2 separate regions of the Homo sapiens genome follow, and region 1 is linked to region 2. Evidence: fine-mapped expression QTL. A gene starts in region 2. The other region holds a variant in brackets. All regions are shown on one strand. Distances are between the middles of the regions.

What was found. PIP is the estimated chance that this variant, and not a neighbour inherited with it, causes the effect.
Region 1: its variant is fine-mapped to the expression of PRKCD in whole blood (INTERVAL, PIP above 0.99).

The regions. Positions count from the first base shown.
Region 1 is chr3:53,187,551-53,203,164 of GRCh38, reverse strand. PRKCD (protein kinase C delta) reads right to left here. Exons shown (of 19, transcript NM_006254.4): 16 at 14,307-14,445; 17 at 13,919-14,107; 18 at 13,164-13,292; 19 at 10,448-11,057. The coding sequence ends at 10,899. Among named protein-coding and RNA genes, the nearest start is that of PRKCD, 34 kb to the right of the region's middle. RefSeq lists enhancers at 1-464, 8,698-8,992, 10,860-11,119, 12,067-12,196, 14,603-14,682 and 1 more and a silencer at 7,055-7,104. The variant A/G (reference allele first, on the strand shown) is at 5,634.
Region 2 is chr3:53,155,332-53,170,945 of GRCh38, reverse strand. PRKCD (protein kinase C delta) reads right to left here and starts at 9,737. Exons shown (of 19, transcript NM_006254.4): 1 at 9,518-9,737; 2 at 5,731-5,842. RefSeq lists silencers at 625-674, 8,786-9,015, 9,286-10,235 and enhancers at 1,871-2,551, 2,552-3,232, 3,348-3,417, 3,428-3,537, 11,890-11,969 and 1 more.

The sequences.
Region 1 (15,614 bases), 32 kb before region 2:
TGAGGCCAAAAGCCCAGTGCTTTGGTTTGACTTCCCATCGCCAATGCAGAAAACCACTAGAGAGTTTAACAAACAACTTTTCCTCTTCTCTTGAAGTTTGTCTTTGGCTTCCACTGAAAAAACAACTTTCCTGCCACCCCTGCCTGTACTCCATCTCCTCCAACCTTCTAAAAGCCCCCGGAAAAGGCTGTGGAGCTGGTTGGGGAGCCATCAGTAGTACCCCTGTGGGCACAGCTGCCCCCGTGCCTCCACCGGTGGCCGCTGCTCCGCCCTCTCTCCCCAGACAGGTTGTCAAGCTGCCACTGCCACGAATTCTCCCATCAGCACAGCCACTGCCTGCCGCCTCCAACAACAACTGCCAGGCTCATTATAACCTCCACCTGCTGGCCACAGCAACCGCCTCTTAGCACACCCAGTGGCGGTGGTTAAACTACTTTATTAAACCCATCATCTCACCTCTACTGGTTCCCCCTCACTGAGAGCTCACTTTTGATCCAGCCTCACACAGGCTGAAGTGGGACTAAATTAGGCCTGGCCTCGGCAGTGCAGGTGCTGCACCAATGGCTAGCCAGAGGTGGGAGCAGAGATGCTGTTCCTCAGGGGACCGCATGTCCTTGGGCCAGGGTGCCTGGTTGTTGGGCCAGGATTCCCAGGGTCATGCACACCCCTGCCTTTGCCCAGCTCCCCGGGCTTTGCTCAGGCTGCTTCCTCTGCCTGAGACTGCCTGACCCCAGCGTCTCGCCTACTCATTCTTTCTAATTTTTAAAAACTGTGAAATGTCATATCCATAAAGAAAAGCACATAGAACAAAAGAACAGTATAACAAATTATTATAAAAGGACGCCTGGGTAACCAGCCATCAGATCAAGAGTCAGAACACCTACATATTCTTTAAAAGACACTTTAAAAAATTATGGATCATTTGGAACACAGAGACAAGCACAGAGACTAAAATAGACAACGAGCATCCTCATCTGTGTGACTCTTGAGGCCACCAAGGCTGTCCCCAGCAGAGACACTGCTGGTCTTCAGTGCCCACAGAGTGCCAAATGACTTTCCAGGAGAATGGGGCCAACTTACATTCCCACTGCTGCGAATAGTGCCTCCCCCATAACCCCGCCCTGCCCAACACCTACACCTACCACCAGCACTGGGTATTATCAGACTTGAAAAGTTTTGCCAGACTGACTGTGAGAGCTACTCATTCTTTGGGTCTCAGGATTACATGTTCCTCCTGATACAGGGCAGATGAGCCTCAAAACTGGGGCTTAGCCTCGGAGGGTTCTTGGCTTTACCCAGAAAAGAATCCAAGGCCAAGCAGTGGTGTTAGGCAGCAATTTCTTTTGTTGAGACAGAGTCTCCCTTTGTTGCCCAGGCTGGAGTGTAGTGGCACAATCTTGGCTCACTGCAACCTCTGCCTTCTGGGTTCAAATGGTTCTCCTGCCTCAGCCTCCCAAGTAGCTGGGATTACAGGTGCCCACCACCACGCCTGGCTAATTTTTGTGTTTTTGTATTTTTAATAGAGACGGGGTTTCACCATATTGGCAGGCTGGTCTTGAACTCCTGAGCTCAGGTGATCCACCCACCTCAGCCTCCCAAAGTGCTGGGATTACAGGTGTGAGCCACCGCACCTGGAGGACAGCTATTTCTATGGAAGCGGCAGCGTGCAGCAGCATGCAGCAGCAGCAGAGGCACTGCTCCTTGCAGGGCAGGGCTACCCCACAGGCACTGTGCCGTGAGTAGCCACGCAGAGGCAGTTCTGCAGTCAAATTTATACCCACTTTTAATTATATGCAAATTAAGGGGTGGATTATGCAGAAAGCTTTAGGAAAATGAGTGGTAACTTCCAGGTCGTTGGGTCATTGCCATGGAAAAGGGTGGTAACATCTGGGTGTTGCCGTGGCAACAGTAAACTGACATGGCACACCCGCGGTTGCATATTACAGAAAACTGCTTGCCCCCTCCCTGTTTTAGCTAGTCCTCAATTTGGTCCAGTGTCCGAGTCCCACATCCTACTTCACCCGCTTCCAGGAGACCTTCCCTGGTTGCCACAGCCCACCCAGGAAGAGCCAGCGCCTCTGTATGCCCACAGCCTTTGTGGGCACCCCTCGTCCCCACACCACCACGTACTGTGATCGTCTTTACGCACCTGCCTCCCAACTGAGGGCATGAGTTCTGTTCCTTGATTGCGTCAGCTTCCCACCATCCTGCAGAGCCCCCAACATGCCATCACAGAGTGAATTAATGAGTCCAGCCTTCATTTCAAGGTCAAGACCACTAATGCACTAAAGCCTCCAGTACCAGATCTGCCCTTAGTAGATGCTCAAGAAACATCAGCTCAACCTGCACATTCATGCCCCAGACGCTACCAGTAGGGGCTACATTTGGGGGTCTCCAGGTGGCTCTGCAGCTGAGCCTCTGGAATAGGCTGGGGAGGATCATGAGGGTGGAGGCAGGGAGCTCAGCATGGGCTGTAAAACCAAATGGGGGGAGAGAAGGGGGCCATGTCGCAGGTGTCAGCTGTTCTTTCTACTGCTGCTGCAACTTTCCATGGAATTTTGTGACAGTGGTAATTACCGCCTTTCCTAGGGTTTGATTTTAATTTGTGCTGAGAACTGGGGTATTTGACGTTCAAATTTTCTTTCTCGCAATTTAAACTCACATGAGGCTCACTTGCTATTCCTACCAATCTTAGACACATTTTCTGCTGTGGAGCTGGCTGCTGGCCCAAAGCCCACAGTGAGAGGAAGAGTGAAGGCCCCTGTTTCAGGGACTGGAGCCCACTGCTGACTCATGACTCAGGGCTCTGTACCCCACTCCCATGCTAGGAAAAGTGTGTCCCCTTCCCACAGAATTCCTTATGCTTACAGCATTGTTATGAAGAGATCATGTATGATGACATGCAAAATGTTCATGGAGTTAAGAATCACATTCTTACATTTCTGGGTGCTTGGCTGCAGTATGAGTTTTCCATGCATTGACCTCTTAACAACCATATACTATTATGCACATGCTGCAGATGAGGAAACTGAGGCTAAGAGAGGCTGAACAGCCTGCTCAGGGCCACACAACTGGGATGGGGCAGGCAGGTGTAGACCCAGATCTGACTCTGAGCCCTCGTCCCATGGTTTGGCCATCAGCACTGCCACCTCCTGGCACATGCCAGGCAGAGTATGCATATGGGTCCATTATAAACAGGGGCATTTGATATCAAGCAATTGACAAACGTGAGCTAGGTTTAAAGACTTTTTTTTCAAAACATACCTTTTTTTCCGGACAGGGTATTCAAGAACAATTAAGCTAACAAAATTCATTTTTGATTCAATGCAAATATTTTGTGAAGCATATTATTTTTAACATATTATTCATGCAAAGTGTGTCTAAATTGGCTTAACTGTTTCTCAACTCATGATTTACAACACAGAAAGTGGCTTGGAGAGGTCTTGCCAATGCTACTGATGGCAGTGGGCTGCCTAATGGGCTGGGTCCTCCTGCTGCTGCCTTTTTTGAGACAGAGTCTCACTCTGTCGCCCAGGCTGGAGTGCAGTGGCACGATCTTGGCTCACTGCAATCTCTGCCTCCTGGGTTCAAGGGATTCTCCTGCCTCAGCCTCCCAAGTAGCTGGGATTACAGGCGCCTGCCACCATGCCTGGCTAATTTTTTTTTTTTTTGTATTTTTAGTAGAGATGGGGTTTTGCCATATTGGCCAGGCTGGTCTCAAACTCCTGACCTCAAGTGATCTGCCCGCCTCAGCCTCCCAAAGTGCTGAGATTACAGGCATGAACCACCATGCCCAGCCACTGCCCTGCTCTTGAGCCGGGTCCCCACCCTCGGCTGGGGCGGCTGGCCTCCACCACCCACCTGCTGGAGGACATGAACTCTAAGGCCTTGGGCTTTGGTTATCTGCCACCGTTAGTGCCACAGGCAGCACTAGAGGCCACTCCTAACTTTACCTACTTCTTATCCTTGTCCCTCCTCATACCAGAGCAGGGGAGGGGAAAAGAGAATGAGAGGCAGGCTGTGCTGGGGTGAAGCGAGCACTCAGTGGACACTCGGTATTCACTCACCTGTGCTCATTCCTCAACACTGACTGGCCACACACCACGTGCTGGGCTCACTGTGGGCTTGCAGTGGGTGCAAAGGACACTGAGTCAGGATTCTGCCCTCTAGGAGGTAGCATGTTGGGGACCAGCTGGCTGTTCTCTTTGAGGGTCTCCCTGCATCCCTGCCACTACCTTCCTGTGCAACCCTGGCCCAACCCCTTCTCCTCTCTGGCCTCAGCTTCCCCACTGTGAATCCATGGATATCCTCACTACAGACCCATAATCTCCAAGGGTCCTTCCAGCTCCAAGTCAGCCTGCCTGTGCCCATCGTTGCTGCCCTCTGCTGTCCCTGCCTGCCACTGGCTCACTTCTCTCTTATTGGACCCTCTGAGGACAGGACCAGGGTAGGGAGCCCTCGTGTTCTCTGACAGTTCCTGAGCAAGCCCAGGAAAAGAAGGGAGAATGTCCTGTTGTCTCTACAGGAAACATGACAAGGGAACCAACTCGCAGATGGAAGGAGCCCCCATTCCAGAGCTGTAGGCCACATCACTCAACCTCTCAGAGCCTGGGTTTGCTCACCGGTAAAAGGAGAGAGTCCCAGCCGTTTCCTCACGGGGCTGTTGTGACGACGAACTGCAGGCAACCATGCAGGAAAAGCATCAAGCACAGTGCTTGTCCCAGGGTGTTCTGACATGGGCTCTCAGGCCACACACCATGAGTGCCAGGCACAGTCATGCCTGTTGAGTGATGCTCGTCAAGGTCCTGGCACACAGCAGCCACCTGTTCCATGAAGGAATATACAAATTTGGGAACAGAGCGCAGCACTGCCCACCCTACTCACAGCTCCTGCATCTACCACCCCAGGTGAAACTGATAGAAAGCTAAACTCCCCTCTCCTAAGAAGAAAAAGGAAAAGTACCTTCCCCAAAGCTCTGAGCTTTATCCAGTACTTAATGTGGGCTGAGCAGCAAATGTCAGGGCTTTCAGAGTTATGTATTTCAGGACAGAGACAGAGAAGAAATTAGGAGTCTTTGTATTAGTCTGTTCTCACACTGCTAATAAAGACATATCGGCCAGGTTCAGTGGCTCATGCCTGTAATCCCAGCACTTTGGGAGGCCGAGGCAGGCAGATCACCTCAGGTCAGGAATTCGAGACCAGCCTGGCCAACATAGTGAAACCCCATCTCTACTAAAAATACAAAAATTAGCCAGACGTGCTGGCAGGTGCCTGTAATCTCAGCTACTTAGGAGGCTGAGGCAGGAGAATGGCTTGAACCTGGGAGGCGGAGGTTGCAGTGAGCCAAAATTGCACCACTGCACTCCAGCCTGGGAGACAGAGCAAGACTCTGTCTCTAAATAAATAAATAAGGCCGGGCACGGTGGCTCACGCCTGTAATCCCAGCACTTTGGGAGGCCACAGCTGTAGGATCACCTGAGGTCAGGAGTTCAAGACCAGCCTGGCCAACATGGTGAAACCCCATCTCTACAAAAATACAAAAATTAGCCAGGCGTGGTGGCAGATGCCTGTAATCCCAGCTACTCAGGAGGCTGAGGCAGGAGAATCACTTGAACCTGGGAGGTGGAGGTTGC[A/G]GTGAGCCAAGATCGCGCCATCGCACTCTAGCCTTGGTGACAGAGTGAGACTCCATCTCAAAAAAATAAATAAATAAAAAATAAAATAAAATAAAGACATACCTGAGACTGGATAATTTATAAAGGAGTTTTAATTGACTCACAGTTCTGCATGGCTGGGGAGGCCTCAGGAAACTTACAATCATGGCAGAAGGTGAAGCAAACACGTCCTCCACGTGGCGGCAGCAAGGAGAAGTGCAGAGTGAAGTTGGGGGGGGCGGGGAATGTCCCTTATAAAACCATCCAATCTCGTGAGAACTCACTGTCATGAGAACAGCATGGAGGTAACCGCCCCCATGATTCAATTACCTCCCACTGGGTCTCTCCCACGATACCAGGGGATTATGGGAACTACAGTTCAGGATGAGATTTAGGTAAGGACACAGCCAAACCATATCAATCTTCTAAGCCCCACTTAAGAAGCCTGATTTAGGAACTGGCGTTCAAGTTCTGAAGACTTAAATCACTGAGGCTATGTGAAGGGCTGATTCAATCTGACGACCAGACTCAAGGAGTGCCCCAAACCTCACATGTCTGGCCTGATCTGGGCTGTGCTGACTCAGGCCTGGCTCTCACCTTTGGGGGCCTTTGTCCCCATTCCTTTCCTTTGCTGCCAGGTCTTGTATTTTCAGCTGCATGTATCTCCCCCTGCCCCAGCCTAAGGAGATAAAGTGCCTGGGAGGATGGTCAGCACTCAGGAAACCACAACCAGCTCCCCAGCCTCTGACACCACAGTCGTCCGGGATCACGTGCTGGGCACAGTCAGGGTGCAGGGGGGAGCTGAAGATCCCATCCAGCTTTGAGGGAGGCCGAGGAAGGGGCAGGTGCATGGTGAGCTCATGGGCACGGTGGCTCACGCCCGTAATCACAGCACTTTGGGAGGTCGAGGTGGGAGGATTGCTTGAGCTCAGGAATTTGAGACCAGTCTGGGTAACATGGTGAAACCCCAACTCTACCAAAAATACAAAATTAGCCAGGCAGGGTGGTACATGCCTGTGGTCCTAGCTACTCGGGAGGCTGAGGGTGGGAGGATTGCTTGACAAGCCCAGGAGGTCGAGGCTGCAGTGAGCTGTGATGGCACCACTGCACCCCAGCCTGGGTGACAGGTCAAGACCCTGTCTCTAAATAAATTAATAATAAATGGGGGAATGTGGCTGTGACGTTGGAATGGTTGAATTTAGGGCGGTCCGGAGATCCTAAAAATACCAGGGGGCTGTCTAGCTGTAACCTCCACGTCTCTGAACCTCTCCAAAATGGTCACCCAGTACCTCTTTATTGAAATATTTCCCCAGGGAGTAGTGACACGAAGTGAGAAAGCCGGCGCTCCCTTCCACGGGGGTCCTCCCCTCCTGGGGTCTGCGGCCTCAGCGCCCGCGAGCCTTCTGGCCGCCAGAGGGCGCTGTAGCCCAGCTGGGGCCGCGTGCTTTCCGCACCGTTCTTCCCTAGCCACCAACCCTCCGCCCGTGGTCCTTGCGCAGGCGGGGCGCAGGTTGTGGAGGGGATGCTCGGGCCTCTGCGGGCCAAGACTGGGCCATACAGGCAGGTGACTTCGCCTTCCAGGGTGTGGCCTGTTCAGAGTAGCATTTTCTGGCTTCACCAGGATGACTGGGCAAAATGCAGATTCCCCAACTGGCTCTGCGCAGGTGGGACCGCAGGGGCAGCTTTCAAAGTACTGATGCCCGGCCCTCCACAGATCACCGAGTAAGTAGACCAGGGCAGCCTGGCATCGGCTTCCAGTGACAGCCAGGGCTGAGACCCGCTGGTTAGAACTTGACATGGTACCAACACACGCTGAATTTGGGAGCCACTGCCTTAAAGGGACTTGGGGTCTCGGCAGTCCATTCATTCATTCATTCATTCATTCATCCATTCATTCATCCATCCATCCTTCCATCCATCCTTCATCTCTGCAGCTCTTTGCTGTGCCTGAGACCTTGGATGCCCTCACGAGCTGGCCTGTGGAACCACAGGGTAGAATCTGGCTGCATCTTTGATTCTCTCAATGTCTCTTTTTGCCGATCACTTGGCCCTGCACCACTTTCCACGCCAGGAGAGTATTTAACCAGTTCCCCGGCTGCTGGGCCTTCTGCTTGCTTCCAGTTTTTCCATTAATCCATGCAGTGGTGGGCTTCCTGGCAAGCCTTCTGGGGCCCTTGGGTGAAGTTCCCAGGTAGCTCTGCCTGAAAGGCACCACTGGGTCATGAGGCGGGTGCATTTAACCGCCCACCTGCGGTCCAGTTAGAGGACTTGCACTCGAAGTGCAGTGTGCAGTGGACAGGCCTGCTCTCCTGAGCATGTTTCATCCCACCCGGGCACGGGGTCATAGTGGCTGCTGTTTCCTATGCACCTAGTGCACGCTGAGCTCATGCCCTGCACTTAGAGACATCATCACAGTCCACGGCAGCCATCATGGTAATCCCCATTTTACAGTAGAGGAATTTAGGGCACTGGGAGGTTAAGTCATTTACTGAGGTCACACAACCAGGGACATGCACAGTTCGAACCCAGGGCTGTCTAGTAGCCGAGCTCATGCTCCTGCCTCCAGGCCCTCCTGTATCCATGCTGCTCGGCCCAGCACTGATGGGGCACCCAGCTCTGTTTGGCCCTTGCAGGGTCGGGGGTAGGCTGGCTGCTGCTCAAATACCTACTTGGCAGGTGGGAGGCAGAGGGCAGTCTGCCTGCTTCAGGGTCCCCAGGTCCTAGTGAAAGTGTGGTTCAGGGCCCAGCCTTAAGAGGCATTTCCTGAGGCTGCTGGGTCAAGCCTGGCACCCACCCAATGGCTGGGAATGGGCCTGGAATGGTGTAGCCTCCCAGGCAGTTTGGCAGTGTCCCCAGCAGCTGCTTCCTGTCCTGGGCTGCTTGAGGTGGACCTCACGGGCCCAGCCCCTGTCCTTTCCTGGGCTCTGCCTGGCACCACTGAGTAGTGGACCAACAGTCCTACAAGGGCCTGCCAGAGTCAGTTCCATGAGGCAGCAGGATTAATGGTCTGGTTTTACAGATGAGGAAACTGAGGCCCATGAAGGAACTCATCGAGTGCCTGGTATGTAGGTAGCGGAGTGGAATTCAAACCCCAGGCTTCTGATTCCAGGCACCATGTTCTTCCCACCACCCTCCACTGCCTCTGGCTGATAAACAACCTATTCCCCGGTTCCACACGGGAGGAAACGGCTCGAGTTACAAGGCTCCGCTTTGGTGCTTCAGGAGGACGCTGGGAGGCTCTGAGTTCAGACACCAACCACGTTTTTGTTCTAACCTCCCTCTGAATGGCTCCATGAGGGTTCTTGGGGAATGTGTGTGTTGTGGCAGAGGCAGGGAACAGGGGGTCTCCAGGCACCTCCTCTGGGCTCCTACAGCCCCAGTGTCCCAGAACAGAGCCTATGCCATGCTGCCAGTTCCTCCACGTGTGATCCCACAGGACAAGCACTTTCTGAGGTTTTCCCTGCTGTCCTGGACACCCAGGCTGGCCCAAGGCAGAGCAGGAATTCAAGAGGAAGGTTCCTTGAGAAGATAGGAGGTGGGGAGGAGAAGGGGACATTTGGTCTCTTTGGGGAGAGTTTGGCCCCCATCCCTGCAGCCCCCTCCCTGGGCCAGCACCAGCCCCATACCATCCCACCCTCTCCGGTTGTGGAAACTTGTACCTCAGCCCAGAAAAATGAACTTGCTGGAAGTCAGTTGCTTGGCTGCCCAGGCCAGCCAATCCGGTGCTAGGAGTGCCTCGCCCCCCTCTAGGGACAGAGGGCCAGGGCTGGACCAGAGGGGCTGAAGAGCAGGCTCTGCCTGAGACCGGTGTCCCAGACAGCAGGGCGGGAACAGAAAGAGGGAGAGGTAGCGAGGGAGGCGGAAGCAATGAAAAGCCAGGAGAGGGGGAGACATGGAAACGGTGGGGAGGAGGGCAGAGCAGACACACTGTCTCCAGCTGTGCACTCTTGGGGGGATGCCGGCACCTCCTGGTCTCCTGGAGCCATTCCTCACCTGCACGACAGGCACACTGGAGCATGTCTGTCAACCTTGGCCCAGTCACTCAGCATTTTTCCACCTTTCTCTCCCACCCTGCCTGTCTCTCCTTCCCCAGGTAGGCAAAAGCTGCTATGATATAGATTCTAGAATTTAGACACAGACTCCTCTGCGGCAAAGGCAGGGATAAATGGTAATGAGATGAGGAGTTACAGCTATGGTCTCCTTGCCTTGTCCCCATTTTAGAGGAAACTGAGCCTTTTTCTCCTTCTTTTTCTTCTTCTTCTTCTTTTTTTTTTTTTAAAGAGACAGGGTCTCGCTATGTTGTCCAGGTTGGTCTCAAACTCCTGGGCTCACACAGACCTCCCACCTCAGCCTCCCAAAGGGCTAGGATTATAGGTGTGAGCCACCACGCCCACCCAATACTGAGGCTTAAAATGATCAAGTGACGTGCCCACATCCTTTGGCTACTCTGTGATTTAAATCCAGATATGCTTGAAGCCTGAGCTGTATTTTCTTCCTCTCCCTTGTCCTCCTCCCTCATCTGGAGCCAGCCTCAAAGCCTCTGCTCATGTCTTCTACTTCTCTGCCCTTCCAGAGACAGCTACAGCTGGTCCCATCACCCCACAGAGACATCTGGGGCTCCCTGTCGCCACCCAGAAAAGCTGTCTGCCTTAGGCCCAGGGTCCTGGGGCCAGAGGAAACCCATAAATACAAACACATTTGCATGAAGGCCCAGCAGTTGGCTTCCGGGCCAGTGCTGCCAAAAGTGGGAGTGGCCACCACCAGCTTCCTGGGACAAACGTGTCCTGACAACCAGGTTGGTACTATTTGGTGTTTATTTAGACACACAAATAAACCTGGTGGTTCAAACAGCTTGTGCTCCTTTTTTTTTTTTTTTGTCATATATATATTTTTTTGAAAAAGATCAACATATCACCAGTCCCCCATGGTTTTTCTCTACTGAGCAATATATACAGCCTATTATATATATATATATGTCTATGTATATAATATATATTTTCAATAGATAACTACATTCAAGTAATGAAACACAGGATTTACAATTTCCCTCCGAAGGCAGAGGAAAAGCAGATTCACACACAGTTCACAGAGGAAGTACCATGAGAGCCCGGCCAGACGGCAGCCAAGGACGCTCTGGGGGCAGGGGCGGGGCCAGCAGCAGAAGTCACCACAGTCCCACTGGTGCTTATCGTGGGGAGCGGGCAGGTGTGGGTGGAGGGCAGGGCTAGCCTGATCTGTCCAGGAACCTCAATCTTCCAGGAGGTGCTCGAATTTGGGGTTCACAAAGGAGAAGCCAGCGAATGCAGACTGGTCCATGGAGTCGATGAGGTTCTTGTCGCTGTAGGAGAGGCGCGCCTTCTCGTTCAGGAACTCCTGGTCAAAGTTACTGTAGTCTCTGGGTGACTTCTACAAGCAGAGGGCAGGGGTGAGCGAACAGGACCTAGGGAATGGCCCTCCAGACACCCCAGGCTGGAGTCCCTGCAGGGCTGGGCCAGGCCAGAGCTGTCCTCACCCAGAACAGAAGACAGAGCCTCCCCTAGCAGCCTGAAAGGAGCCCCATGGGAAGGAGGCTGCCATTTCCCCAAGAGGATGAGGAAAGTGACCAGGGAGCTCTGGGCCTGGGTTAGGAGAGGTGGTAGCCTCTTGCTCAGAGACCACCGAATCACAGCCCAGGGAGGCTCACTTACCACCTGTTTTTGTGGGGACCACAAGCTAAGAATGGCTTTCACATTTTTAAATGGTTGGAAAAAAAATCAAAAGAAAAATATTTCATGACATGAAAATTAGGTGAAATTCAAATTTCACTTTCCATAAATAAAGCTTTTGTAATACACAACCATGCCCATTTGTTGACATACTGTCTATGCCTGCTTTGAGACCATCAAGCCTGAAAAGCCTAAAATATATACTATCAGGCTGTTTACAGGAGAAATTTGCTGATTCTCTGCTCCTGAGGATATGATGGGATGGTAATATAGAAAGACCGCAAGCTGGTGGCCCTTCAGCCAAACTGAACTGGCAAGTACAATCATTTCGGCTTGTACTGGGTTTTAATGGAATTTGAACCTATATTTTATTTATTTATTTTTATTTATTTATTCATTTAGAGATGGAGTCTCACTCTCTTGCCCAGGCTGGAGTGCAGTGGCACGATCTCGGCTCACTGCAACCTCCACCTCCTGGGTTCAAGCGATTCTCCTGCCTCAGCCTCCTGAGTAGCTGGGATTACAGGTGTGCACCACCGTACCCGGCTAATTTTTTTTGTATTTTTTGTAGTAGAGACGGGGTTTCACCATGTTGGCCAGGCTGGTCTCGAACTCCTGACCTCAGGTGATCTGCCTGCCTCAGCCTCCCAAAGTGCTGGTGTGGGCCACTGTGCCCGGCCTGAACTTATATTTTAAAATTGAGCAATGCAACCTAAAAATCCAGATTTCCAGCTTCTTTTGAAAACTGGCAGATTAAAGCAGCCCTGGGCCCACTTCCTGCCCACTCTTGGTGCTAAGAGCCCCCTGGACAGCCCCTGCCCCACTGACAAGGGGTACATCACACCTGCTTTGTGTTTCTTAGTGCGGAGAAGGAAATCTATCAAAAGTGAGACTGAAAGCAGGCTGTGTGATTTTCTTGCAGCTGGCCTAGCCTGTCAGTTACATGCTCAGCCAGGACACGTCTGAGTTTGAGGTCCCTGGTGTAGGGGAAGTGCTCTGTAGCCTCAAAGCACAAATGTGGGGCGCATTACACAGGCTGCCCAGTGGGAACTGTGTGCCCTGGTGGAGGAGGGGAATCAAAGGACAGAAGGGGAGTGGGAAGGAAGAACTGTGGTCACAGAGGGGCCACACAGCCCCAAATTTCTTAGTGGCCCCACCTGCCTCTGCTCTCAGGCTGGTTCCTTGGTAGCCCTGTAGATTCTGGGCCTGTGAGTGAACCAGCCCCTCTTCCACCTGGAATGCCTCCCAGCTGTCCCTTGTCTCACTTCTTCCAACGGGGCCTCTCAGACCCACCCTCTTCTCTGCCACCTGGGTTCCTGCTGACAGACCCACTCAATAGCAACGGATCATGTGTCCTGGGGCATCTCTTATACTGTCATCTCGTATCACAAATTGTCATAGGTGTGCAAGTTTCTTATCTCTCCAACTAGCTGAGAGCTCCTCCGGTTCTGGGACTGCATCTCCCACTTTGCTGTGCAGCCCAGCACTGTGCTCTGCATTCAACAGGGACTCAGGATTCCCCATATGTATTGGAAAATGGATTGAATGGAGCGATAAAGTGAGGTCTTAACTCTATTTCCCAAAACAGGGTCCTCTGCATACAGTGGGATCCACAGTCCCCAGTGTGTGCTGAATGACTGAGTCAGGAGGGAGAGGATGAGAATACAAGGGCAGCGGCTGTGACTGAACATGCTATGGAGATTGCTGGAAGAAGGGAGAGGTGGAAAGCGTGTGAATGATGCAGGAGAGAGGGAGGGCAGGAGAGGAGTAGCTCAGCCTGAAGGCAGCACAGGGCAGGATCACATACCACTTTGGGCCTGAAAGGTGGCTCCAACCTCCGCTTTTCCAGCAGAGTCCAGTTTATGGTCTTGAAGAAGGGGTGGATTTTGATGTTTCCGGTCACTCCCAGCCTCTTGGTTGGTTCCCTTTCAAAGAGCTGCAACCCAGCAGGGACCCTGGTTAGCACCCAAGGGCCATGGGAAATTGGAGCTTCAGCAAATCCCCAGCAGGCCCAGGGATGCAAAGCCAGGCTTGCCCCAGCCCCAGTCAGCCTGGGGAACGGTGGGGCTGAGGGAGGCCACTCTGGCCTGCAGTGCTCCCAGCTCCCCCGGAGATGACAGGCTCTGGGCTGGACATCTGCGACTCTGCTGGTGGAACTTTTTATTATTTACTATCTGCCTGGCCCACAGCTGAGCATCATATGTTTCTATTTTCTTCCCAACAACTCTGTGAGTCAAGTCTGCTCATAGCCCCATTTTACAGATAAGGAGACAAACTCTGAGAGGTTAAGTGACCAGCTAGTCCCAGGCAGAGCCAGCATTTGGCCTCGGGTCTGTCTCCTGACCCTGGGCCCTTAGTCACCATGTCAGGCTGATTCTATGCACAGGACTCAGACAGGAGTTCCTGGGAACATGGTGAGAGAGCAATACCCCGTATGTTAGGACTGCAGCACCACTGAGGCTGCCATTCCAGAGACAGGAAGCTCCTCACCCAAAGCCCAGTGTCTGCCAGCCCCTGCCCCAGCCCAGCCCAGACCAGCCCAGCCCAGCCCAGGGCCTCCACCTTCTCCAGGATGTCCTTGGACTCCTTGGTGATCCAGCGGGGATAATGTGGCGTGTCCACACGGATGGACTCGAAGAGTTCATCCTCATCATCACCATGGAAGGGGGACTGGCCAATGAGCATCTCGTACAGAAGGACCCCGAAAGACCACCAGTCCACAGAGAATGTGTACTTCAGGCCCTGTAGGATCTGGCGGTGGGGAGAGCAGCAGGTCAGCAGGAGCTGAGGTGCTGAGGCTGAGAGGGGCCCCTGGGCACGAAGCCTAGCCAGGCCGCCTCAGCCTATGGGCTTTGGCTTGGACATCACTGCCCTTGGGAATCCTTCCCTGGCCCACCGTGGGGAGGCAAGGTGCCTGACTGAGCGGGGGGCTGGAAGGGTATCGGCTCACCTCAGGGGCGATATAGTCAGGGGTGCCGCAGAAGGTGCTGGCCCGGCTCTCCCCGAATATGTTCTCTTTGCACATCCCAAAGTCGGCAATCTTGATGTGGCCATCCCGGTCCAGCAGCACATTGTCCAGTTTGAGGTCCCTAAGGACAGGGGACAGGTAAGAGTCAGCAGGGGACATTTCTTCTCCTTCCAACCCTGCCCCCCATGTCCTAATTTTCAGCCGTATTAGTCCAGGACTGTCCCCAAGGGTACAAGGGAATGAGAAACAGAAAAGGAAGCAGAAGGAGAAAGAGATCCTAAAAACAGGTGCTTCTTGCAAGTCCCCTACTGTGTGCTAAACGCTGGGCATACACTGCCCTACTTCCTGAAGCCCAAATGGGGCTCAAACAGGTGATGTCACTCGCCCAGGGTCCCCTAGCAGTCAGCAGCAGAAGTGACCCCCAGGTTCAGGTTTGTCTACTTCCCACAGGCAGAGACCATGTCTATATTTAGTAATTAGTCATTTGAGTATATACTTAATGCATATGGGAACTAGAAATGGCAAACAGTACAAAGTCTACCTTCCACTGAGCTCAATCATGAGGCTCTCCTTAGAGCAATTCTAGGCGTGGACAAGCATATGGCAGCATGCAGCTCGCTCCCACCTTTTTTTTTTTTTTTTTTTTTTTTTTTGAGACACAGTCTCATTCTGTCACACAGGCTGGAGTGCAGTGGCATGATCTCAGCTCACTGCAACCTCCGCCTCCCGGGTTCAAGCAATTCTCCTGCCTCAGCCTCCTGAGTAGCTGAGATTACAGGCATCCACCACCATGCCCAGCTAACTTTTGTATTTTTTAGTAGAGACAGGGTTTCACCATGTTGGTCAGGCTGGTCTCGAACTCCTGACCTCGGGTGATCTGCCCACCTTGGCCTCCCAAAGTGCTGGGATTACAGGCGTGAGCCATCGCGCTCAGTCTCCCTCCCACGTTTTAAAGGCTGAATGCTAATATTCGATATACACTTTCCCACAGGTTGTTTTTCCACTTAACAACATATCTTGGCATTATCCCACATCAGTATACAGAGCCTGACCTCAGCCTTTTTGGTGGGTGTACAGTTCCCACCATAGGATGGAATCATAACTTATTAGATGAGACTTTATGGAAGGAGTCCCTTCTGGCAGAAGCTTAGATGACTCGATGGGGCTTCAGAGCGAGACTGACGGCTCCAAGGATGGGTGGGGCGATGGTGTCAAATATGAGCAGTGAGTTCCTAGTTCCTGAAGCTGAGCCAGCCTCAAATGGTGGCCACAGGAATGCTAACACCAGGG
Region 2 (15,614 bases):
CACACACAGAAACACACATGCACTCACCGGCTCTCACATCTCAACAGATACCCGGGCCCACACAGACCACACCCGACCACATAGGCTCCACACGCACGTGGAGTGCCACAAGCTGTGATGTACACACTGGCACAGAGATGCTCCAGGCAGACACAGAAACAAACATACAGTCCTGGAAGGACCCCACATCCCTGACTAGAGTCTGGCACCATGAAGTCCAAATGCAGCTTTTTCCACCACAGCCCCCAGGCACAATGGCTGGGGAATGGAGGAGGGGCAGAAGGGCAGCTGGTGTCAGGCTAGGCTGGGCCTTTCCACCCAGGGAGACGAAGAAAGTCCCTCTTGATCCAGAGCAAAGTCTAAAGTGTGTAAGGGAAGGAGTGGGCTGGTCAGGCACATCACTGGGCAGGCCTCCGCCCGCCCGCCCACCTGCCTGCAGGGCCCTGAGGCTATGGTGGAGGTTGAAGGTCACAGGTGGCAGTCACAGGCCTGGCGCGCAGGGGGAGGGGAGGGCTTGAACCTATGTTGGTAGGGCAGCAAGCCGGGCACCCCAGGAGCAAGTTCCTTGAGCTCCAGGCTCACTGTGCAGAAACCGAAAGAGAGGTTGAGCAATTCAACCAAAGCCACAAAGCCAATGGGGCAGACCCAGGGGGAAGTGGGGAGAGAACTTCCAGCTCTAGTCCTAGAACTGCCCATCTGGCCTCCAATGGGGTGAGGGTATGTGTTTGGAGATGGGAACAGCTCCTCCATCAGCCCCCAGTACAAGAGCCCTACTCCTTAGCCCTTCTTTCTCCCACAGAGTTCCCACGATTTTCCAGATGGTTTACCATTGGAAACAATCGTTTTGTGTTTGGGAGAAGGCAAGATGGCCACCTAACCCTTTTGCCAGTCATCCCCAGGATCTGGGCAGGATCCACATGATGCTTCCCCACTTTGGGGATATTGAGAAAGCTGGGAGAGAGGCAGGACCATCCCGCATGGTGCGCCATCCCACAGCAGGCAGCGGACAGAGGAACCGGCGAGCTTGGACCTAGACAGGCCTAGCTCAGATCTGCTGCCTGGGTGCTCCGCGATCTTGGCCCAAGTGCTCTGGTGTCTTCCAGACTTCCTTGGAAAGTGGGAAAAGAGGCTCTGTTAAGCCCCCCAGCCGCAGGGTGCCCTGTTCTGGCCTGAGGCTCTGGGCAGAACTGGGCTGAAGCAGGCAGCATGAGTCCACTGGCAGAGGCTGGCCAGCTACTGCCCCTCCCGGGGCTCCAGCCTCCCTGTCTCAACAATGGAGACCTCTAAGCTTTCTCCAGCCCTGACACTGGAGGACCCTGGGATCCTCCTCCCACCCCAACAACCCCAGCCCACAACCTACACCACGCAGACATCTGATCTAGCCTCAGGCCTTGGCGACTGCCTGCTCTGCTCTGCCTGTTTACCCAACACGGCCATAGACATGATCCAAAGCTTCCGGAGCTGTTGTGAAAACAGCGGCTCAGCCACCACAAGCCTGCCCTCCTGGGTGCCTTGGCAGAGACCTTTGAGGGACAGCCATCCCAGTCCTGTTCGTGGGCCTCTCAAATGCTCCCCCACCCCTTAGAAGGCCTGTTGAGCCCTCTCCTCCCCAATCCTGGCTTTAGGCTCCCGTCTCTACTTTGGGCCCAGACCCTCCTGAACTTCAGGCTTGTGGCCCCACCTGCCTCCCTGGCTTCACCACATGAATGACTCCAGAAGAGCTCAAGCCTGCCCACACCAGTCCCCCGCCGTTCCCCTCCCAGCGCTCCTCATCCACTAGGAGTGCACGAGCTCAGGCAGTGGCTCAGGCCAGACAGCTCCCCCTGCTCCCCACACAATAAGGCCATCCCGTCTGCCGCTGCAGCCTGTCCTCAAGTCTCAAATCCTCTTCTCCCACCACCACCATCCCCAGGCTCTGCACCTGTCTTCTGACTGCTCTCCATCCTCTACCCCGGCCCGACAGTCCCCCTGTTCCAGCCACCAGACGGGGCTTTTCAGACAGATTTTGTCACCCCCTGCCCAAGCCCCCAGTGCCTCCCATTGCCCCTCTGACAAGCCCAGACTCCTCCCCTCAGCCTGCTCCATGCAGCCTGCCCCCCGCCACCCCCCTCCCCATCACCGTTACCTCCCTGACCTCTCGGGCAGGCGCTGCCTTTCCCTCATTCCTGTGCCCCAGCCACGCTGACCCCTTTCAGTTCCCGAAGCAGCCAGTTCCTTCCCGCTTAGGAGCCTCTGGGCTTGCTGTTCCGTCTTCCTGCTCCACCCCACCCCACACAGTGGCTCCTTCCCATCGTTCATGTCTCACAGGACACCACACCCCGTGATCTGCCCATTTCACAGACGAGGCAAGTGGGGAACGGTCCAGTCCCTGGCTCAAGTGTGCACAGCCAGTAAATATTGAGCAAGGATTCAACCAGGGTCTGTCTGATGCCTGCAGAAGTCCTGCTCCTAAGCCTTCAGGATACCCTCAACCACACTTCCCGCCCAGGCCCATCCACCTTTCGCTCTCCAGCCCTCAGGCCCCTGCTGTTTGCATCACTGTCCTTACCACTCCTCAACACTCCTCATCCCCAGCCTCTGGGCCCCACACAGTGAAGGCCAATGCTTAGCCCAACCCTAACTGTGCTGACCTTCTTCGTGTCCCTGGGACAGGCTGGGCCCTGCCCCCAGCTGCCATGGGTGTAGGGGGTTTTCTAGCTCCCCCTACTCTTCTAGCTTCCATCAGTCCCAGATGCCCACTCCCTGCCCCAGCCCACAGGCTGACTCCAGGGGTCTGAAGGGTAAGCAGGCTGGCAGGAGGGCTTACGTCCACCCCCTCGTTCCCAGCCAATTCTCCCAGCCTAATGTCCTGCAGGAGGCCAGAGCTGGAGAGGGCCAAGGGGAGCCCTGAGGGGGCAGCAGGCAGCTGCAGACTGCCTTTCCCCTCCCTGCATCCATTTGTCACGAGATCTATTTTCTCCCTTTGAAAGGGAGTGAGGGGGAGAAGAGCAGGCAGGGGCTGGACTGCTGAGTGGGTGGAGCTGCTCCAACAGGAGCTCCTCTCCTCGGAGGGCATGGAACCTACTGAACAAGTAGGGCACTGCCACTGGAGGTAGAATTGAGGGGGATGAGGGAGTCAGAGACCTGGCTCCTCAGCCAGGCTCCACAGCCACCTGGCCATGTAACACTGGGCCAGTGCCCAGCCCATCAGATAATAATACCCCCTCATCAGTCCCACTTGCTATTTTTTGAATAGTTCCCATGAACTGGGCTCTAAATGCTTTACATAACTACAGTTTCTACTCATTCAACTCTGACAATGCACTAAGCACGATGCCAGCTACTTTGCATATGTTATCTGTCATTTCCGCACAACCTCATCAAGATGGATGCTATCATTATCTCATCTGTCAGGGGGAGACTGAGGCACTGAGCGGCAGAGCCACTTGCCCAGGTTCATTCATAGAGCTGCTGGGAGCTGCCTAGTCACTAAGATGCAGCCCAGCCATCACCTCTCTCAAGGGGGCCATGCCTACCAGAGTTGATGCTCTTGAGCCTCGGCTTACAGGCTCAGAGCAAGAAAGGAGCCACGGTTGTGGGGACTGCAGGGGACTTCGTGACCTGCCCCCTGCCCTTCTCCTAGAGCCCCCCAAAAAGGCCTGGGCAGCCCTGGCAGTGAAAAGCCTGGTCAGTCAGCCTAACCCGGTGGCCAGACGCTGCTCCCCTGGGCAGGCAAGGCAGGGGCGGAGCAAGGCGTAGAGCCACTGACAGAGGGCTGGTCAGTCCCACTCCAAAACCACTTCCTGGGCAGCTCAGAGGAAGTAAGCCTCCGGAAACGCCTTGAACAGATGGGCCTCTCTCCTAGGCCCAGGCTTTGGGAAGTGAACAGACAGCCCCTGCCAACCTCTCAGTCCCTAGAGCCCAGCAACTCCACTCCCTCTAGGCATGGACACCGTGGGGGACACAGGAGTTGATAGGACCCCCACCCACTGTGAGCACCTTGGCCCCATGGCCAGACAGCCTACTTCCTCTGCTGTAGCAGCAGGCACACAGTGCTGGCACAGCTGACACAGCCTCTCCCCCGCATTCATGCCTCCCATCTCCCATGCCAATCCCTGGTCGGCCTGGAGCCTGGGGCCAGGTGGGCAGGGTGGCTGCTGAATGCATGGGCAGAGCCCACCTACCAGGGTGGCCCAGCCCCCCTTACTGAGATCACAGCCACACCTGGAACTTGCCCCTCAGGTGCCAGATGCAGGCGACCTGACTGGGCTGTAACTCTGACCAGGGACCCCTTCCTGACCCCAGAATGGGCACAGTGCGGTATGTGTGGGCAGGCATTTGAGTGCATGGATGCCAACGGTAACTGGGAGAGCATCTGTGTGTGTGTGAGTGTGCCATGGGTGGCTGCATGTGAGCACCTGTGTACCTGCATGCCCACATGTGTGGTGCACGTACAGGAACTCATGAGTCTGTGGGTGTGCATGCCCACTGCAGCCTAGCTTGCCATATCCCTGTGTGAGCACGCATATGTCTGTGCAGCTGGAGGGTGATGTCTGAGGGTTTACAGTGGGCTGTCTCCAAGACTAATCAAACTCCTTACAAAACAAGGCTGAGTGACGGAAAGGGCTGGCTCTTCAGAACTTAGGTGGCAGAGGCCCCTAGACAGCCAAAGGCGCTTTACTTCCTCCACACCAGGTTTAGGGACAGGTCCAATACACAGAAGGCCCAGTGAAGACTGCTCCTGTTCTGTCCCAACTCCTACCCCAGAGTGAAGGCCCTGACCTCCCTTCTGCCCCCAACCCAGAGTCAGGCCCAGGAAGCCCAGCCTTTATGGCTCTACTCACAGACCTATAGGTGCGTAACAGCCAGTAGGGTTGGCTGTGAGGGTCTGCTCAGGGAGCACTCCTGGAGGAAAGACGGTCTTTGCTATCCCCCCACTGTTACTCCGAGGCTCCAGCTTCATTAGCACCCATACCCACCACCAGTACCCTGTTCACTGGGGCCCGGTCACCCAGTCACCAGCCTGGAATGAGTATGGAGTCACCCACAGCAATGTTTTCATGGTAATAGGGCTGAAGGAGGCAAGGCTCGCCCCAAAACAAGGAATTTCTAGCTTTCTGAGGGGATTCAAAGAGACTGCAGCCTTCCCAGCATTGTTCCAGACTCTGCCTAGCTCCCCTTGAATCTGGAAGCTGAAGAGAGGGACTGAGCCCTGCTCGGGCTCCAGAGAAGCTGGGGAAAATGGAGGGGCCTGGGGTGTGGAAGACAGCTCAGCTGTACCTGGAGCTGGAGACCCCATTCCATCCCCCTGCAGTGTCCAACCCACTGTGGGGCCCACGGGGAATTTCAGTGTCCTTGTGTGATGATGAGGTGAGTTTGAGGCAGATACAGGGCCATGGAAAAGCTGACACACCCACCCTCAATCTTTGGCCCATGAGCCACCCTCTCTAACTGACCAAAAAAGCGTTACTACTTTTTGCCCCAAATTAATGGTAGGCCCCAGGCCTCTGAGCTCCAAGGTGAGAGCATTCTGGGGCCACAGCCAGGTTAGGCAGGAAGTTCCTCATGAGCAGAGAGCCCCTCATAGACAGGGCAAACAGCTGCGGCCCCTGGGCACACAGGGCCCACAACCAGATCAAGGACTCTGCATGCATGCCCAACCCCATCCAGTTCCACAGCAAAGGACAAAGAGGCCAGAGAGGAAGGCTACACCGGTGCACCATCCATCTGCCTAAGAGAACTCAGTCCTACCTGGGGCTCCCAGCTCCTGCTTGTCCTTAGTCCTGGCTCCCGCTGCTGCTACAACGCACCAACCACCAGGAGAAACGGGCCTGCCCCCTTGCCTGGCCAGTTCCCTGCAGACCTGTAGGAACAGGAGGAAACAGCTGAGCCGGGAGGCACCGCCAAACAGGCTCTCCCCGTCTACCAGTCCCAGCATGGCTGACGGGCCCAGTTCAGTCTCTCCTGGACCTAAAACCTCGGGTCTCTCTGGATGTGGCTTTCCCTTCCTTGAAATGTGGTGTTGGGCCCAACTTTTCCTGGGCACCACTATTTGTCCACTCCATGGTAGGGGCTGGAACACTGTGTCCCTGCCCTGAGCACATTTCCAGCCTGGTGAGGAAGCCAATAACACAGCAAAAACCTGTTCCTGACCCTCCTGTCTGTGGGAGGTTGCCTTGCAGGTTTAGGAGTCCTAGGGTGCAACAAAGTACCACCACTTTATGTCCTGGTGCAATTTCCCTGAGCCTCAGTTTTTTTAATGGGGAAACTACTAGCCTCTTCTCCCCAGGTGGTTCTGAGGTTCCAATGATGTGGCGTGCCAGCTCCTGTGCTGGACTCATGTTGAGAATGCCAAATGAATAGTGACTTTTTTTTTTTTTTAATGTGGCAGGGTCTCACTCTATCGCCCAGGCTGGAGTGCAATGGCACGATCTTGGCTCACTGCAACCTCTGCCTCCTGGTCTCAAGTGATTCTCGTGCCTCAGCCTCCTGAGCAGCTGAGATTACAGGTGCGCGCCACCACACCCAGCTAATTTTTGTAGTTTTGGTACAGACAGGGTTTCACCATGTTGGCCAGGCTGGTCTCAAATTCCTGACCAAGTGATCCACCTGCCTCGGCTTCCCAAAATGCTGGGATTACAGGTGTGAGCCACCGTGCCCAGACTGAAGAGTGACATTTTTTAATCTCTTGTGCCTTACAGTTCAGGTGATTCTCACATTACTATTGTGCCCATTACACAGCTGAAAAAACTGAGGCCTGGAGATATCCTGGGAGGAAGAAATGGCAAAGGTAGCAAGGTACTCTGTGTCTCCTGGCTGAAAGGCCTAAGCATTTTCTCTGAAGGCCAGCTCAAGCCTCTAAGAAAGATTCTGCTCCCCAGATGTGAACCCCTCCCCCAGCTGGAGACCCCCATCACCATTCCCTGGGGGCAGAGGCATCCTTGGCTTTATCTTTTTGTCTGTACTTTAAATTATTTCTAATTTTAATCTAAACTGTGCCAGCTAAATGGTGTCAGCGCCCTGCAGTCACAGCTCTGAATCATCCCCCACCCCTGTCTCCCCCATCGCTACTACTGACACTAAGGTCTGGTGAGGGAGGGGCTGTCATGCAGGCTGAACAGGGCTGGGTACTGGGGGCTCTGTCTGGGCATCCCCCCTCCCTCAAGCTGCTTGGTCAAGGAGATGGGAAGGGGCAACAGACAGGCAGGAAATTGGGTTGGATACTGTCTGGGCTTTCTTTAGCCCCAGCTCCCAGGAGAATGGGAACCGTATAGCTGGGGGTGGTGACAACAAAAGACTTCACATGTGCTGTGTTCTCACTATGGGCCAAGATTGTGTTAAAGGACCTTTAACACAGGAACTTTTGTCCTCACTCTCTCCATTCTGCAGATAAGGACACTCAGCCTTGAGAGGCCTAGCTTGGGTCTCTTGCTCTTAACAGGCACAAGCAAGTATTGGAGCCCAAATAATTCTTGGGTACAGAGCCCGAGGTCTTGGTCACAACACTACAAACCCCAAGACTTGCCCTCTAGCCCTCTCCATGTGCACACCCACATCCTCATGGTCTCCCACACACTCACACACACACCCCCACACTGGGCTCTCACCTTCCCTCCCAGCACTGTCACCACACACCTTGTCACACCCCCTCCTGCCGCTAACACCCACGCCCAGGCACTCTCGGTTCCCCACAATCACAGTCACTCCCCAAGCATACACCGGCAGTTTCATAGACTGTGTCCCACCAGTCACACACTCCTACCGTGGCCACACACTCCCAGGCTTACCCCAGCACTGTCCCATCGCATAGCCCTCACACCACCCATCAGCCAGGTACAGCTGCCCAGACACCACCACACCTCTCTGTCACACACACACGCACACACACAACCACACATATCACACATGCACCATACAGCCTCCCTCTGCTGGCCTGCTCACCAAGCCCCAGCTCACTCCACAGCAGGAACGAGGAAACCCCAGGGATCAGTCCCCTCCCTTAGTGACCAGGTGGGCCTGGTCACAGAAACTCAGTGGCAGAGGGAGAGCCACACGTGAGTACACACACATACACACACTTATACAGATACACTCACACATGAGACTGGTGGGTAGGCACCCAACACCAGGGGCTTCCACAATTAACAGATCTAACGTACTCATGGCCAGTTGGTCACCATGATATACCCAGTGTGCAACACCGAAACCTCCAGACACACAGGGACACACACACTAGCAGGCAAGGACACACACACACACACACACACACACGAGTCTGGTGACAACAAACACACCAAGAATGGTACACACAGTTGCAAAAGACACACACAGAGCCTCAGGACACAAACAGACATACACACATACACACAAGCAAGTCACACATGCGAAAAAGGACACACATGCACAGGCAAGTCCCACAGTGACAGACAGCACAGAAGCTGACACAGACACACAACATACCCACACACCCAGATACCAGTGACTTAGCACAAGGAGACAGCTTCCACGCATACAGGGTAGGCGTCAGAGAAGGGGACCCCCCGCCCACTCACAGCAGATCCTTCTGACCAGGTTTAAGGCGGGGCTCGGTGGGGCTCTCCCCTGCCCCAAGAGAGAGGGAACTGGGGAAGTGGGAGCAGTTCCGATGGTGCTCTCCTTCTGCCGCTCCACCACCAGCCAGGAGGACCCCCCCCCCCGACCTCCTCCCCTCATCTGGTGGAGCCCCCACAACGGGAGTGGCATCTGGGTTGGGGGCGAGTACAGACCGTATCGGGCAGGGGCCACCCTGGGAGGGGTCTCAGAGGGGCGGAGGGGTGGGGTGGGAAGGGGGATGGTGGAGACTGGAGCCACGCCCAGCCCAGAGACGGATGAAGGGACCGAGAAAGACTCTTGAGACCGAAAGAAGAGACAGCGAGGAGGAGGCGCCGCGCGGGTCGGGCCTCCAGGGACCCAGGGGCGGGAGGCGAGGCCCGGCGGGCGGCCTGGCCTGGGCCCCGCGGTAGAGCGGAGAGGCGGCTGGACTGGCAGGGGGCGGCGAGCGTGGGCCGGGGGCGCGGCTCCGGGAGGACGGGATCGAGGGGGCGGCGGGCGGGGGTAGGGGTGTGGGTGGGGGTGGGGCGATGGAGCACGCGGAGGGCAAGGGACGGACGGATCGGGTGGCGAGGGACAGAAGGATCGGGTCTCGGAGAGGCGCGCAGGGGGAGAACACAGAGTGGGTGGCGACAGACGGACGGACACAGGGCCCGGGAGAGAGTCGGGAGGGACGGACGGGCCCCTCGGAGGAGCGGGAGACACACGGGCGGGTGGAGGGGCCGGGAGCGGGCAGACAGAAGGACCTCAGCCCCCACTGTCTAGCGGAGGGACACACAGACGGACAGGGGGACGGAGTCACCGGCAGGTCTCGGCGCGGCGGGACTTTCGCTGACCGCGGCTCAGTTTCTCAGTTTCGGAAACGGGAACTGGGGCGGGAAGGGGGAAGGAAGGGCGCCGCGCCCTCGGGGTAGCCCCGATCCCGCGCCCGGACCCGGCCCTCACTTACCTCCCGTTGCAGGGGCAGGCGCCAAGGGTCGCGGCGGCAGCGGCGGGGGCGCCGCTCCCCGGCGCGCGCGGACGGGGTTCGGCGCGGCGCTGACTGGGATGGGCCAAGCGGCCAGTGAGGTGTGGCCCGGGCCTCCGCGCGGCGGGCGGGCGCCGGGGGTCGCTCGGGAGATGTGGGCTACAGCCGCCTCGGGCTCCGGCGCCGCGGCACACGGAAGTGCGAGGGGGCGGGGCCGAGCGACCTCACCCAGGTGCCGCCGGCCCCGCCCCCGCCAGGCCCCGCCCCCGCCAGGCCTCGCCCTGCCAGGCCTCGCCCCGCCAGCTGCAATCGGGGACAGCGTCCCTCCGCCTCTGCCTGCGCGGGACACCGAGTCTCCCGGTCCCTCTGCCCTGCCTGGCCCTCTTCGCATCCTCCCGCCATTAGCGCGCAGCCAGCCCTCAGAAGGGGCCCATTTTACAGAGGAGGACGCTGAGGCCCGGTGGGGAGGCTCCCTCCGCCCGCTGGGGCCTGGGAGGGGCCGGCGGGGGTTCCCCCGCTCCCCACACCCACGCCCGGGACTCCCCACTGGCCAGCTGGCCCGCCTCTCCTGGCCCCACTCCTGCTCTTCCTGTTGGCTGGAGCTCGGACGCGGCCGGGCGCGGTGCCCGCCGCCAAGCCCGCTGTCCCGGCTCTGCCCCAAAGACTGAGCTGGTTAGACTCCAGGGTCGGAGGTTCTCGCTGGTCGGGCGCTGCACTGCTCCTCAGGCGGTTCTGGGAACTGCCCCTACTCGGACTGGCAGTTGCCCCTACCCCGATTGGCAGTCTTCTGCTTTCCTGCCCCCACCTTTGAGACCTCTCTATTGCTCCTGGCAGGCGCCTGAGCCTCCTTTCCAGACATGGAACTTGGTTGTCAGCCATAACTCCTTCATTCATTCATTCACTCATTCATCTATTCACCGAGTGTCCCCTAGGCTCAAAGTCTAGGGACCAGTTGGGGTTCTAGGGAGTCCATTCCCCTGTCCCCAGAGCTCAGAAAGCCAAGACATTAGCCTTATACTCATCCAAAGAAATGTCACTTCCCAGGAGACAAAAAAGAGGGTTCCAGGTCCTGGGGAACCACCTAGAAGGGATAGAGAAAGTCTAGACAGCTCTTCCCAGCTGAGACACAAGGGATGGAAGTGGGGGACAATCCCTGAGGTGGCCTGAGCTGAGAAAGGGGCTTGTGACAGAGACAGGCCATTGGACTTTGGTCTTCTCACAGAGCAATGAGAAGGTGGTGAAAGCTATTACAACCAGGCAGGATGACAGGCTCAAGGGGGCTCCTGCGGGATAGATGGGGCAGAGGGACAGCAGGGCAGAGGAGAGGCTGGATGGGGGACAGAAGGGCTGCCACGTTGTTCAGGTGGGAGGACCCTGGTTGAGATTGCGGAAGATGGATGGGGAGAAAAGGCCAGACCAGGTGGGTTCAAGGACTATCCTTTGGGAAAGACTTTCTCTTCACACCCAGGCCTTGAGCATGCTGTTCTCTGGGCCTGAATGCCATTTCCCACCCCACCCCCAAACCTCTACCTGCCCTGGTTGTGTCCATTCAAATGTCCCTCCTCCCTGATGCCCAGTTGTAATGCACGGCACTTCCCTGAGTGAAGGACCATATTCATTAGCATGTTCTGTGTCCTGATCCCATCCCACCCCACCCATCATGCCCCATGGCTTCCCTGGGGTTGGACTGGAGGAAAGGGTAAACAAGGTGAGCCTCAAGTGACCTTTGCCCACTTGGGATCGGGTTTCCTTCTGGCTCCTCCTTCAGGTCCACAGTAAGCCAACCCAGTCTCTCCCTCAACATAAACAATAGGCCCACCCTGTGCCAGGGACTGCAGCCAGAGGGAGGACTGACCCTTGAGGAGCTCCAGGTCCAGCCACCAGACCTTTGTTCCCACTCCGTGTGGTTCACCATGGAAGAAGGAAATGAATAATCATGGCTATCGCTGATAGGGGCTACCCAGCACCAGGCTGTGTGCTGGGTGCTGGATGTGGGCAGTCTGAACAGTTCTCAAGAGGTGAGGGCTGCTGTTAGTGCCAGTTTTGGTGATGAGCAAACTGAGGCTCAGAGAAAGGAGAAGCGACTTGCCCCAGAGTACACAGCTAGTCAGTGGCAGACGCAGATTCAGACCGAGGTCTGTCTGGCTCCAAAGCCCATAGTTTACATCAGGGATCTCAATTTCAGCACCACTGACCTTTGGGACAGATGATTCTTTGCTGTGGGGGCTGCCCTGTGCACTGTAAGGATGTTGAGCAGCATCCCTGGCCTCTGCCTAGTGGATGCCAATAGTACCTCCCTGCTTTAACTTGTGACAGACAAAAATGTCTCCAAACATTGCCAAATGTCTGCTGCAGGGCAAAATTACCCCTTGTTGAGAATCACTGCTTTGACATATACTGGTGTTACAGGAACAAGATTTACATTAGACAACAGGAAGCACTTTCCTGATCCTCAGGATATGCAGACTTGTGAGCTCAGGGGCTGCAAGCATACACTGGCTTCAGCCAATCTTTCTCCTCTAGAGAAAGGGGAAGTGCGATGTACTCAGAGAGGGTCAGAGGGGCTAAGGCTGTGCTAGCTATGCTGTGGCGAGGGCAGAGAAGGGATGAAGGTGGGCTTCCCTCCAGGCCTTAGGTCCAAGGGTTCCAGGGAGAATAGGTTTGCATGAGGTCCAGAGAATCCAGGCCAAGCTTGACTAGAACCACCCTGCATCTTGGAGCTGCTTCTGGGTGCCACACTGGTGGGCCAGGGCAGGGTCCAGATGAGCTGGTATCTGTGTCCCCATAATCTGCCTTGCATCAACAAGAAGGGCCTGCTGAAGCCTGAGAGCAAACCTTGGCTGTGTCACATGCCAACTGTATGACCCTGAGTAGGTGACCATGCCTCTCCCAGCTTCAGAGTTCTCACCTATGAAAAGGGCTGATGACAGACTCATGTCAGGAGTTGAATGAGGTGGTAAGAGTTAAATGAGATGATATATACAGAGCCTCGGCCAGGCTAGACACATTGCCCAGGGTTACAGCCTGGTCATGTGCCAAGTCACAGGCTGTCAGCCTTGAAAGAGGCTTCAATGGCCTCTCCTGACATGGGGCGTAAATCCCTGAGCAGGGCTAGACTCATAGCAGCTGCCTAGAGGTGATACTTTCCTCCTCCTCCAGGTTTGCAGCCAAGGAGATGGGCTAGGGTGGTGCCAGGCAGCTTCCAGACTCCCACCCACAGCATCCACCCAGGGCTGTTCCTTCTGTGGGCCTCCTGGAGGATTTATCCAGAGGAGAAGCAACTTGACCCCTGCCACCTCTGCCTCCTCCAAAGGCCATCAACCCTGGGAGGCCTCCAGACTCCTCCACTCCTGAAGTCCAAGACTCGGCCAAGCAACCTGGAAAAGGCCTCCCTCTGTCCCTGAGGCCCACACAGCTGAAGGCAAATGGGGTCCCTCACTTGATCCCTGCCAAGAGTTGGTCCTTGTCCTGGCATTTCTGCTTTTTGCACCTTCTCTCTGTTTCTGTCTCTCTGTGTCACCATCCTTGTCCCTGAAGCTTTGGTTGCCACGGCAATCCCCATCACACCCAGAGCACTGGCCTGGCCAAGAGAGAGTGGGCTTGTGTTTCTGGAGCAGGAGACACAGTCAACAGCGACAGTGCACCTGGGCAATTGCTGGGGGCAGCAGAGCCTGGGAGGTTCCCACTGGGGACAGTGTAGTAGGAAGGACACTTGGGACATGCCCATGCCTCAGGCCACCAAGACTGTCATCGACAGGAGTGTCAGCCTCAGGTACTAGGTTAAGGACAAGCAAGGACAGGCTGAGGGGGACAGTGGCCTTGTGGGTAGTGCTGCACAGCAGGGAAGTGCCAGCCCAGGGGCTGGTTCGCATCCTGGCTCTGCCCTGCACTGCAACTTAAATGTGCCTCAGCTTCCTCATCTGTGGAGTGGTGTTTGGTTAAGATCGACCTCCTGAGGCTGAGAGGATGGAAGAGTTCAAGTTCATCCCATGTTGGTGTTACCTGCCAGGCAGAGAGTTGGTGAGGCTGGGCTAATTGCCTCCATGTTCCTTCCTCAACACATTTGTGTTTGGGTGAAACCTGAGACATACTTGGGGGTAGACAAGGGGAAGGTGTGTCCTGGGAGTGCAGAACACAGGGCTTTCCTGTGGCTCTCCCAGGGGTGTGTACCCTGGACTGTCCCTTCTCTGCACTGACCATGGCACAGCCCCTGCCAGCCTGAGTCCCCTTCCCTGGCTCCTCTGCCCCTGCCCCCAAACATGTGTGTAGGTGGGGAGAAGGGGCACTGGTGTTGGGACAGTCATCAGCAAGAGCTATCCCCTCGCACGGAGTCCAGGGGACCTCCCAGCTCTCCTCCACCGCCCCCATCCCCGGCACCCATTTAGCTCTAATCTACGGGGTCCCTACTGGGAGGCTCATGGGGCTTAGCAGGGCAGGGAGGGCTATAAGCCTCACCTGCCTTTCCTTTCGCTCCCTGGCCTGAGGGTGCCTCAGCTCCCCGCTCCCACCTCTCAGCCCCTCATCCCCCACATCCTCAGAGGACAGCTCACCAAACCCAGCTTGGCCCATGGGAAACAGTGTAGGGGGTGGCCCTGAGCTGAAAGGCGGCTGCTCGAGGTTGGCAGGCTGGGAAGGACTGACTGCAGGCACAGCAGGGTCCCCCGCGCCGTGCACACACCTCCATACCCACCGCACAACCACGTACACGCCAGTCGGCGCGACCCCCGTGCACCAGCACAAAGTCCCCCGGGCCCCACCCTCCCGCCCCGCCCCGCCCCGCCCCGCCTCAGGGAAGCCTTTCCGAGCCGGGGGCGCAGACGCCCGCCCAGCCGCGTGACGCAAACCCCGCTATAAAACACCCGGCTCTATTCCCGGGTCCGGCAGCCACCTGGCTCCAGGCGCCGGGAGGCCCTTTCGCCTCCTCACCCTCTTTGTTCTCCAGGAAAGTCAGGAAGACCTGAGCTCGCCCATTCCTTGGATGGAGCAACTGAGGTCCTGGGTGTGAGGGTCGTCCAGGGCACTGCAGCCGGCCTCCTAGTGGGAACCTCTGAGAAGACCTTGAGGACTGGGGGCTGGATATGGGATGAGAGGGGAAGAGGGAGAGTCACCGAAACCTGGAAAAGTAGCCACACACATTGGCTGTTCTGATTTAAAAAAAAAAAAAAAGTAATACATTTTCTATTAAAGCAAGGAAGACAGAGACAAGTTTACCGAGGAAAGTAGGAATCTCCTGTAATCGCACAGGTCGTTTCATCTCCCCAGACAGACCTGCCCTCCGCACTGTCATTGCATGCTATAAATTGTCCCTTGAGGACACAATCGGGCAGGCTTTGTGAAGGGGGTTGCGTGAGGCCTTCCAAGACTGAGCAGAGCAGCCTGGGGCTCAGGACTCCCTAATCCTTGCCCTGGGACAGGGATTGGAGGAATCCTAGGCCCCTGACCCAGACTTCACCCAGGGTTTGCCAACAACTCTTGGCAGAGCTGTGAGCAGGGACAGTGGGCAGTGCCAGAGAGAAGTGGTTGGGCCAGTTGGACCGGCAGAGGCTGAGCACCCAGCACCCTCCACCCCAAGTCCTCCAGTGATATGAGAGGCCCTGGGCACGAGGGCACTTCTGCCACCCACCTACACTCCCCCTGCCACTGCCCATCGAAGCCTCCCCACCAAGCCTCTGCTCAGGTTGTGCTTTGCCTTGGAATGCCTTTCCATTAAGCTCTAGCCATTTGATGAGGTCCCATGCAAATGGTCCTCCTGCAAATTGTCCTCCAGGGAGGCTCCCAGATCCCTGCCCCTAACCAGAGGCATCCTCTGCTTCCTGTAAGCCCCCCAACTCCACACTGTCTACTGCAGAGGCTTCAGAGTGGGAAGAACTAGCATGCAGCCCCCATGCTGACTGGCTGTGTGACCTGGAGCAAGTGCCAGCCCTCTCTCAGCCTCAGTTTCTTCATCTGTAAAATCTCCAGGCCTTGGGGCTGCTCTGAAGATAAATTAAAATGTTGGAAGCAGAGTGCCCATTTCTGTGCCCAGTACTAGAAATAGGCAGCTGGGCTGTTCATGTCCATCTCCCCCAGACCATGAGCT